Linked DNA regions of Homo sapiens: region 2 is linked to region 1. Evidence: fine-mapped expression QTL. Tissue or cell type: whole blood. Region 1 holds a variant in brackets; the other region holds the start of a gene. All regions are shown on one strand. Distances are between the middles of the regions.

Region 1 (5,257 bases):
CCGGCCGCTCCGCCGTCCGCGGCCTGCACCGTGGCCGGCGCGGGATACTCCATCTTCCCCGCAAACCCTCACCGGTAGAGAGCCTCTCAGGCGCCTAGGTATCGCGAGATTTGGTGGGTGGTACTTGGCCCAGCCAACAAATCTCGCGAGGTTTGGGCGCTGCACCCGCGCTGCCGTGCGGGACCCCGCGCTTATTTTGCTTTGCTACCTCTGGTACCTCAGAGCGTGTGCCGTGGATTCGGAAACCTGTCGCTGATTCCGCAGCAGTGACCCCCCCCTCCCGGAGAGGCTCGTGTGGTTTTGGCTCATGGCTCTCACCTTGCTCACGGTCAGCCCTTGATACTTTTCATTTCGTTCTCAAGGTCCCGTTATGTGGGAGTGTTTTCGCCATTTCATTCACAGGGAAACTGAGGCCCAGAACCTAAAAATGGTTAACTCAAGAGCTCGCTACTAGTAAGTAGTAGTACAGCTAAGGTTCCATATTACTGCTAATAATACATACTATTTGTTGAGTTCCAAGTGCCAGCTCCCAGCTCTGATCTTCCCCGAGACTCCGGACCTGTATACATCCAGTTGCCTCTTCCACAGTTCACTCGAATGGCTAATAGGCTTCTCCAATGTAGCTGTCAGACCCCAAATTTTATCTTCCAACCCCAGAGCTGCTCCTTCCCGTGTCTTTGGGAGCCACCATCTCTTGCCTAGGTTATTGTAGTAGCAACCTCACTGGCATTCCCAGCACAGCAGTTCCAGGAATCCTCTTATGACAAGTCAGATCATGACGCTTAGGTTCTCAAATCCTCCAACAGCTTCCCATCTCACTCTTAGTAAAAGCCAAAGTCCGGCCAGGCGCGGTGGCTCACGCCTGTAATCCCAGCACTTTGGGAGGCTAAGGGGGGGCGGATCACCTGAGGTCCGGAGTTCGAGACCAGCCTGACCAACATGGAGAAACCCCGTCTCTACTAAAAATACAAAATTAGACGGGTGTGGTGGCACATGCCTGTAATCCCATCTACTCGGAGGCTGAGCCAGGAGAATGGCTTGAACCCGGGAGGCAGAGGTTGCTGTGAGCCGAGCTGGCGCCATTGCACCCCAGCCTGGGCAACAAGAGCGAAACTCCGACTAAAAAAAAAAAAAGCCAAAGTCCTTACTTCGACCAACAAGGCCCTGTACAATCTGACTTCCCTTAACCTCCCTGATCCTGATGTGTTACTCAGTCCCCAACTCCTTAATTCCTGTCCCAGTTATCCAGGCCTCCTGGGGTGAATTTCTCTCATATATCTTCATGGCTCAGTCTCCCACTTCCTTCTCTGGCTACTCTATCTAAAATACCTTGTCTGGCTATCCCATCTAAAATGTTACTTTTCCACACACACTTCATGTCCTTCTTTCCTGCTTTATTTCTTTTATATTTTACCTTTTATCTTGCTTATTGTCTGTCTCCCGACTAGAAGGCAAGCCCCAGGAAGGCAGGGATTTTTGTCTCTTTTCTTTTCTTTCTTTTTTTAAATTGTTTTTGAGGCAGAGTTTTGCTCTGTCGCCAGGTTGGAGTGCAGTGACGCGATCTCGGCTCACTGCAGCTTCCGTCTCCCGGGTTCAAGCAATTCTCCAGCCTCAGCCTCCTGAGTAGCTGGGATTACAGGCACATGCCACGGCACCCAGCTAATTTTTATATTTTTGGTAGAGACGGGGTTTCACTATGTTAGCTAGGCTGATCTCAAACTCCTGATCTCATAATCTGCCTGCCTCGGGCTCCCAAAATGCTGAGATTACAGGCACATGCCACCTTGCGTAGCCTTTTGTCTCTTGTCATTGCACCTGAATCTCCAGCACTTTGAAATAGAACCTGGACCCTCCTAGGTATATACAAAACATTTGTTTAATGAATGAAGCTTTTAATATTACTAGCTTATTTCAACCTCATTTTTTCAAATACTTATGGAGAATTTACTATGAGCTAGATGATATTTTGAGCATGGAAATATAGTGGTGAACAAGACAGGGAAGCTGTAGTAAAGTATTTTTTATTGTAGTGGAGGAGAGTACAATAAGAAAGTTAACAGTAGGCCTGGCGCAGTGGCTCATGCCTGTAATCCAGCACTTTGGGAGGCCGAGGCAGGTGGATCACGAGGTCAGAAGATCAAGACCATCCTGGCTAACATGGTGAAACTCCGTTTCTACTAAAAATACAAAAAAATTAGCCGGGCGTGGTGGCGGGCGCCTGTAGTCCCAGCTACTCGGGAGGCTGAGGCAGGAGAATGGTGTGAACCCAGCAGGCGGAGCTTGCAGTGAGCCGAGATCGTGCCACTGCACTCCATCCTGGGCAACAGAGCGAGACTCCATCTCAAAAACAAAAAAAGTTAACAATAATAAGTGCTAAGGAGAAGATAAAACAGGATTGCATCTCAGGTGAATGATGTGTTAGGAACATTAATCAGGGTGGCATCAGGAGAAGCCTCTGGGAAAATGACATTTGAGCTAAGACCTGATTAATGAGAAGGCGTAGCCATGCAAAGAGCTGGGCAAGAGTGTTCTAGCAGAGAGAACAGCAGGTACAAAGGCCCTGAGGCAGGAGAGAGCATGATGTGTTGGAGGAACAGGAAAAACGACAGCATGGCTGGAGCCCAGTGAACAAGGAGGAAAGTAATATCAGAGGAGGCCAAAGAGAGACAGATATGAATTATTCTTGCTTGAGATCATATAGCTCATTGGTGTAATTTAGTCATTTATACTACAAGTATTTCCTTATTTATACTACAAATATTGAGCACCAGCACTATGTCAGGCCTCAGGCCCTAGAGCTTCCAAGCTTCCAATACAGTAGGTGACTGATGTTTGGCCAGTGTTTTACAATTTTTTTTTTTTT[A/TA]TAGACGGAGTCTCTGTTGCCCAGGCTGGAGTGCAGTGGCACCATCTCAGTTCACTGCAACCTCCACCTCCTGGGTTCAAGCAATTCTCCTGCCTCAGCCTCCCGAGTAGCTGGGATTACAGACATCCATCACTATACCCAGCTATGTTTTCTATTTTTAGTAGAGACGGGGTTTCATCTTGTTGGCCAGGCTGGTCTTGAACTCCTGGCCTCAGGTGATCTGCCCGCCTTGGCCTCCTAAAGTGCTGGGATTACAGGCATGAGCTACCACACCCAGCCTACAATTTTTTTTTTTTTTTTTCCGAGACAGGGTCTCACTAGTGCAGTGGTATGATCATAGCTCACTGTAACCTTGAACTCCCACACTCAAGTGATCCTCCAGCCTCAGCCTCCTGAGTAGCAAGGACTACAAGTGGACACCAACATGCCCAGCTAATTAAAAAAAATTTTTTTTTTGTAGAGACAGGGTTTCCCTATATTGCCCAGGCTGGTCTCAAACTCCTGAGCTCAAGCGATCCTCCTGCCTCAGCCTCCCAAAGTGCTGGGATTCCTGGTGTGAACCACACACCCAGCCCAGGGCAGTGCTTTACAGTTTGCAAAGCACCTACATTATAGCATTTAATCCTCAGGGTGGTTTCTGTGAGGGATTTCTTCATAAGTGATGATAAAGAAACAGACTAGGAAAGGTAAAGGTTTTGTGAAGATCACACAGCTAGTTAGGTACGAGCCCATGCTTGAACACTGGTCCTTAGATTGCAAATCTATGTCCTTTTGCCAAAACCAGATGACCAGCCTAAAAGTCAGTGACTGCACATTATTTATTCTCTTTTTATTTATTTATTTACTTTTAGAGACGGGGTCTCACTATGTTAGCCAGGATGGTCACAAACTACTTATTTATCTTAAGAGTTCTAGTTACTTACACTTGCATATAGCATAAGTTATTCAGGGATAATCCAAGGGATACAGGGGATTTTTGTCGAAGTCGCAGAACCCACAAGGATATTTTTAATACTATGTAACAAATACTGGGAGTGGAGTATATAAGTTGCTTTGCATATTATTGGAAAACAACCTCCAATCCAATTACATGCTCAAAATAATGTCCATTTATTCTCCAATGAGTGCTGTCAGGGTTCATCCCCTGTGCCATGGAGGCAGAGTCCTGAGCTACCCTGCTGAGGGTCTGAACAGCCTTCATTGTCACCAGTTTTCTATTTTGTCTTTGTGTAAGTGCTTCCAGGAATGGCCCAGGCCTGGACTCCTTGCTGGGACCTGGCAGTGCAGGTGATGCCTTATATTTGTTGGGCTGGCTTTTTATTTCCTCCTTGTGGAAAATGAGAACCATTTTCCAACACATCCTACTGTGTATTGTTGCCATGGGAGATGAACAATCCCAGGGAAATGACTTTGCTAAGGGACGGGAACTGGCTACTGTTCAGCATACATTTCAGTTGCTTAAATACTGACTCTGTATGTGCATGTGTGTGCATGTGCAAACGAAACTATAGTGCTTAAGATATAGTTCTTGCTCTCAAAGAGATTCAACTCTAGTTTTTCTTTCTTTTCTTTTTTTTTTGAGACAGAGTCTCACTCTGTCACCCAGGCTGGAGTGCAGTGGTGCGATCTCGGCTCACTGCAACCTCCGCCTCCCAGGTTCAAACAATTCTCCGCCTCAGCCTCCTAAGTAGCTAGGACTACAGGTGTGCACCACCACACCAAGCTAATTTTTGTATTTTTATTAGAGACAGGATTTTACCATGTTGGCCAGGCTGATCTTGAACTCCTGATCTCATGTGGTCTGACCACCTTGGCCTCCCAAAGTGCTGGGATTACCAGTGTGAGCCACCACGCCCAGCCTTAAACTCTAGTTTTTCTAACTCTAGTATGTCTAATCTAGTGACAGACATAAAAGTATCTACTGAGTATGTAATATCAGAGAGTATGTTTTAACTGCTATAACAGAGATAATGACTAGGCTGGGCACAGTGGCTCATACCTGTAATCCCAGCACTTTGGAAGGCTGAGGCGGGAGGATTGCTTGACCCCAGGAGTTCAAGACCATCATGGGCAACATGGCAAGACCCTATCTCTACAAAATTAAAAAAATTAGCTGGGTGTGGTGGTGTGTGCCTTTGGTCCCAGCTACTCAGGAGGCTGAGGTGAGAGGATCACTTGAGCCTGCAGTGAGCTGTTGTACCACTGCACTACCACCTGGGTGACACAGCAAGACCCTGTCTCAAAAAAAAAAAAAAAAGGGCCAGCGTGGTGGCTCAGGCCTGTAATCATAGCACTTTGGGAGGCCAAGTGGGCGGATCACCTGCGGACAGGAGTTCAAATGGTGAAACCTCGTCTCTACTAAAAAATACAAAAATTAGCTAGGCATGGTGGCAG
Region 2 (5,000 bases), 120 kb after region 1:
GCTCATTTTTGCCTGTGAATCAGGGTAGCTTTGGCCTTAGGTTGTTAGCAGATGGGAATTTGGGGAGGGGAAGGCAGGTAGTAAGTGGATGAGAGGGTTGTAGTTGTCAGTGGAAAGATGGACTAGTGGAAAGACTGCTGAAACCATATGCACCAGGAAGACAGTAAGAGCTTGCTTGCTTCCTCTCAGTTTCAAAAGCCCTGGACTTTTTTTTTTTTTTTTTTTTTTTTTGAGACAGTCTTGCTCTGTCACCCAGGCTGGAGTACAGTGGCGTGATCTCGGCTCACTGCAACTTACCCTGCCTCCCAGGTTCGAGCAATTCTCTTGCCTCAGCCTCCCGAGTAGCTGGGATTACAGGTGCACACCACCACGCCCGGCTAATTTTTTTAATTTTTAGTAGAGACGGGGTTTCACTGTATTGGCCAGGCTGATCATGAATTCCTGACCTCAAGTGATCCGTCCACCTCGGCTTCCCAAAGTGTTGGGATTACAGGCGTGAGCCATCATGCTTGGCCAGCCGTGGACTATTGAGATTGTGGGAGGGCTCTTCAATTTAACAAAAATTAATTGATACTTGTTCCTTGCCAGATAAAGAACTGAGGTCTGAGGCTGCACGGGTGAATAAGAAACATTCTCTGGGAGCCCATAGTACAATGGGGAAGAAGAACACATAAACAGATGCCTTTAATAAACAGATATAAATGCAGTGATACAAGAACATGCATCATAATACGGAACCAATAAGCAGACCACACTCAGCTGGGGTCGGCCAGGAGGAGCTTTTCAGAGAAGGGCTCCTCATTGTCGTTGATGATTATAATTTAAGGGATGAGGAAAAATGAGGTGAAAAGGTGGGAGAGGCCAAAGGGAGGGTCATTCCAGACAAGTCAGTGCAAACAAAGACACAACAGAAGTAGCTCGATGTGTGTAGGAGAGCTGCAAGGCACATTCACGGTATAAAGGGTGTGGAACAAATTGGGGGAGCTTATTGAGGATCTCTGTGCCTGGCATGGGCACTGTGAGTGGTGAGAAGCCTGTGAGCAAGCGCAGAGGGAAGGCCTGACCTCCCAGCCCATCGGCAGTGCTCTGGTTGTGCCCACCTCTCCCCCAGCAAACTGCCTTTCCTCATTCCTTAGCTCCATCTCTACAGTTGGAGATTGGCACTAAGGGGCTATGAGGGAACCTCGTGAGGACTTGTCCTTCCCTTTGTTGGTCAGTGGCCATCTGGTGTCTGAAGAGAACCGCTGGCAGCTGCAGTGCCTCTGCTACAGCCAGGCTGTCCCAGCTGCTCACAGACCTCAAGCTCAGCCATCCTTCTCCCTCCACTGGCCTTGACCCAGACTTTCCCTGGCATTCTGACTAGGGAACCAGGACCCCTGCTCCTGGGGTCTGGACACAGACCTTCCAGAAACGCAGATGAAGAGCCCTGGCCATGCTTGTCAGGGGCATATCCTCACCCTGGCTCAAGAAATGGCAGGCTATCTGCATGAATCACAGCTGGGCCTTTCATAGTCAGTTCCACATTCTCCTCTCCCAACTGAACAAAGTTGAAAGGGACTGGGATCCCAGGCTAGGCAGGATGCTGTGTTGTTTGTGACAGCCACTCTACCCTCTGCCACCCCATCCCCCACTTCCCTGCCTTTCACAGCCTATATGCCTGGTTGGTACCCAGTAAACTTCACAGCAGGACTGATGTTTGGCATGTTTCCTGGCCTCTTCATGCCACTACTGATAGAGGAGCCACTATCTCTGGTCTCCATCCTGATGTCATGTGGAGGCCTACTATCTGTGGATAGAGTTACTGCTGACAAGGCAGCCTGAAGCTTTAAAGTGTATCCATGCCTTCAACAAAGATTGTTGCAGGCTGTCTAGTATTCTACATTGGTGCCCCAAGGTTCTGTGCCTTTGAGGAGAAATTCCCACAGAAAAACAGCTTGTTCGCCAATAGCTCCACAGCAGCCTAACACTCCCCTTCTTCCAGTAGAGAAGACCTAAGATGTGAACCTACTCTCCCTGCGCAGGCTACAGACTAAAGGCTAGACTCCGCAGTCTGCCTGTCACCTCCTCTCCCACTATATATTCCTACCTTGGTGTACCCTCTTCAGGCGCCTGGAGCTGCACCTCATTGCTGTGTGTGTGTGATTTGTGGTTGTGCACATGCTCTCCACTTTGTCAAGGACCACTTTTGTCAGCATACTGCTGTTCTTTCTTCAAGACTCAGCTTCTTCAGCTAGCCCTGCCCACTCTCGGCAGAGTCAGTCCCTTCCGCTTGTGCTCCCACATTGCCTCTTGCTCAAAAGTACTTACCATAACCTTTCCAGGCTAGGCGCCTCCAGCTCCTTCTAGGGGCGAGCCACCACCTCAGAACTCACTATATTTGCAAAATAAACAGCCCTCAGCATTGTAGAGGGAATGGCCCAAAATCTTAGACCCAGTTCAACGCTCCACTTCGCGGTAATCATCTTGCTCAAGTTTTCACCACAGCCTTGCCTAGCCTGGGCTACTCTTAGGGCAGGCTTGGAAGGAAGTGCAGCTTCCTGAATTAGCTGATGTTTGGTAAGTGGTGGTGGAGGAAAAGGGTGGGGCTTGAGGATATTATAACTCGGGTCACCCCTGAGTGTTGCTTTTGGTCATTGGGGTGCCTCATATTGCCAGACAAGAGCTCAGACCTGAGGAGAGTGACTAGCTTCTCTGTGTCCCAGGTAAGCACTTCGGTCTAATTACTGCCTGCTCCTTCCACAGCTGTCTTGTCCTCATCCCTCCTGTTTGGCTCACACCAGGGGAAGTGGACACTGGAAAGATTAAGCCAGCTGGTTCTCTTTCTTTGTTTTTGAGATGGGGTCTCTCTCTCTATCACCCAGACTGGAGTACAGTGGCACAGTCAGGGCTCACTCCAGCCTTGACCTCCTGGGTTCAAGTGATCCTCCCACCTCAGCCTCCGGAGTAGCTGAGACTACAGGCGCACACCACCACACCCAGCTAATTTTTGTTATTTTTTTCTAGCGATGGCGTTTTGCCATGTTGCCCAGGCTAGTCTCACATTCCTGGGCTCAAGCAGTCTGTCTGCCTCAGCCTCCCAAAGTGCTGGGATTACAGGTGCAAGCCACCACACCCAGCCTGCCAGCTGGTTCTCGATGGCAGCTCCCAACATCAGTAGAGGTCCCTGGGGTACTTTTCAGGAGGAAAACTCACTTCGTGTAGCCCATTCAGCTAAGGGAAGCCACGGGGCCCTTAGGCAAACAGACCCTGGGCTCTGGGGATACTGCAGTGAAGGAGACATGTCCCTCCCCACAGGGAATCTCAGTGGGAAGAGACAGAGCTGAATACATTTACCTAGCATATAAATATTAGGGCTACTTGGGGATTGCTTCACAGATTCTGTCATGTAAAAATGCTGAATAAATATTGAATGGATGAGGGAATGAATGAGTGAGTGAATGAATAAATGAACTAGCTGGGCCTTGAGAAAGACACGTGTGTAGCCCTTAGTCCTTTTCGAAGGTAATTGCCCCAGTTACCTCATTTTATCCTTGAAATAGACCTGCAGCATAGAACAAGAATTCCACACCCCTATTTGACAGATTTGGAAACTCAGCATAGGTATGTATGGTTTGGGGAGATTTATCAGAAGCTGATTTGTTGCTTTATTAAATAAAAAACTACCCACTCCCCTTGCTTCCAATTTTGGAAAGGCACATTAGCACATACCTATACCAGACCCTGTGCCGGCCATGAGTGCAGAGGTGATCAAGTTGGGTGGGGTAAGGAGGTGAAGAAACTAGAAGCAGAGCTATCAGTTTAGGAGGCTGTTGTAATAATCAGGCCGGAGGATGGTCTGGTGCAGTGTGTGGGAATGGGGAGGAGGGGATGCAGAGGAGAGCTCTTAGAGAGCCTGAGATCCAATTGCATAGAGGAGGTGAGGGTGAGGGATGCGCGCAGGCAGCCCGAACGGCCGTGTGAGTGAGCACACTTCGATGTCTCCAGTCAAGGTGGAGAACAGAAGAGCTTTGTGGGGGTAAGGTGATGGAAAAATGAGTATGGCTTTGTTGAATTTGAGGAGCTTCTCCACCATCCAGATAGTGATGTCTAACAGACCACTGGGATTTAGGATTTGGCTGAGGCCAAAGGTAGATTTGGGAGCCCTGACACAGCTATTAATGAAACCTTGGGAATGGGCGAGATAAAGGGAGTGTAGAGGGAGGGCATGACCGAAACTTGGGAACCCCATTGTCTGAAGGAACAGAAATTACTGATGAAGACTACGAGAGACTCAGGAAGGAGACCTAGGAGAGACTGGCCGTGAAAGCCAAGGACAGGGGGAATTCTGTAGCAAAGAGAATGACTACTGGCTTTGCATGCCTGAGAGAGGGCAGCAGAGGTGGGGACTGAGGAAAAGGCTTGGGATTGGGCAGTTAGGAGGTCACCAGTGACCACGTGGAGGGCAAATTAGTGAGCATAGTGGGAGTAGGCAAGGAGGGGAGTGTAGGGGTGGGAAGGTACTATATTTCCAGAAGTTCTGCTGTTGCAAGGAAGGGAGGTAAAGTGACTCAGTGGACAGATGTCTCTTCCCATATTGGGCCCTCTGCTGTGTTTCCCTTTTCCCCCACCCCTAAAGAGCACCTGACTCACTGAGGGCTCCCTTGGGACTATGGAAACAGCAATACCACCTCCAGCTCGGATGAGCGAAGTATCTGACATTTCTACAGTTCCTTACAGTGTGCAAAGGACCACTAACTCCTTTAATCCTCACAAGAACTGAGCTTTTCATGTTATAGAGGAAATGGAGAATCATAGAGTTTCAGTTCAGATTCAACTACATAAATCTGAATGCACATCTGAGCAAGTTCCTTTGCTCTCGTGATCTCATTTGCCCCACACAACCCTTTGATACATGTTGGTCCCATTTCACAGATGAAAAGCCTGGAGGTTGAGATGGGGTGCAGCTGCCTTGTGGAGAGCAGGGTTCCCACCTCTGAGTACAGGGCTCTTTCTGCTCTGCA

Evidence for each region. PIP is the estimated chance that this variant, and not a neighbour inherited with it, causes the effect.
Region 2: it holds the start of HK3, and the variant in region 1 is fine-mapped to the expression of HK3 in whole blood (INTERVAL, PIP 0.97).

The regions. Positions count from the first base shown.
Region 1 is chr5:177,017,535-177,022,791 of GRCh38, reverse strand. It overlaps ZNF346 (zinc finger protein 346), which reads right to left and starts at 96. Exons shown (of 7, transcript NM_012279.4): 1 at 1-96. The coding sequence starts at 53. It also overlaps a transcript of UIMC1 not described here. RefSeq lists enhancers at 282-331, 1-392. The variant A/TA (reference allele first, on the strand shown) is at 2,864.
Region 2 is chr5:176,896,969-176,901,968 of GRCh38, reverse strand. HK3 (hexokinase 3) reads left to right here and starts at 2,623. Exons shown (of 19, transcript NM_002115.3): 1 at 2,623-2,702. RefSeq lists an enhancer at 1,302-1,803.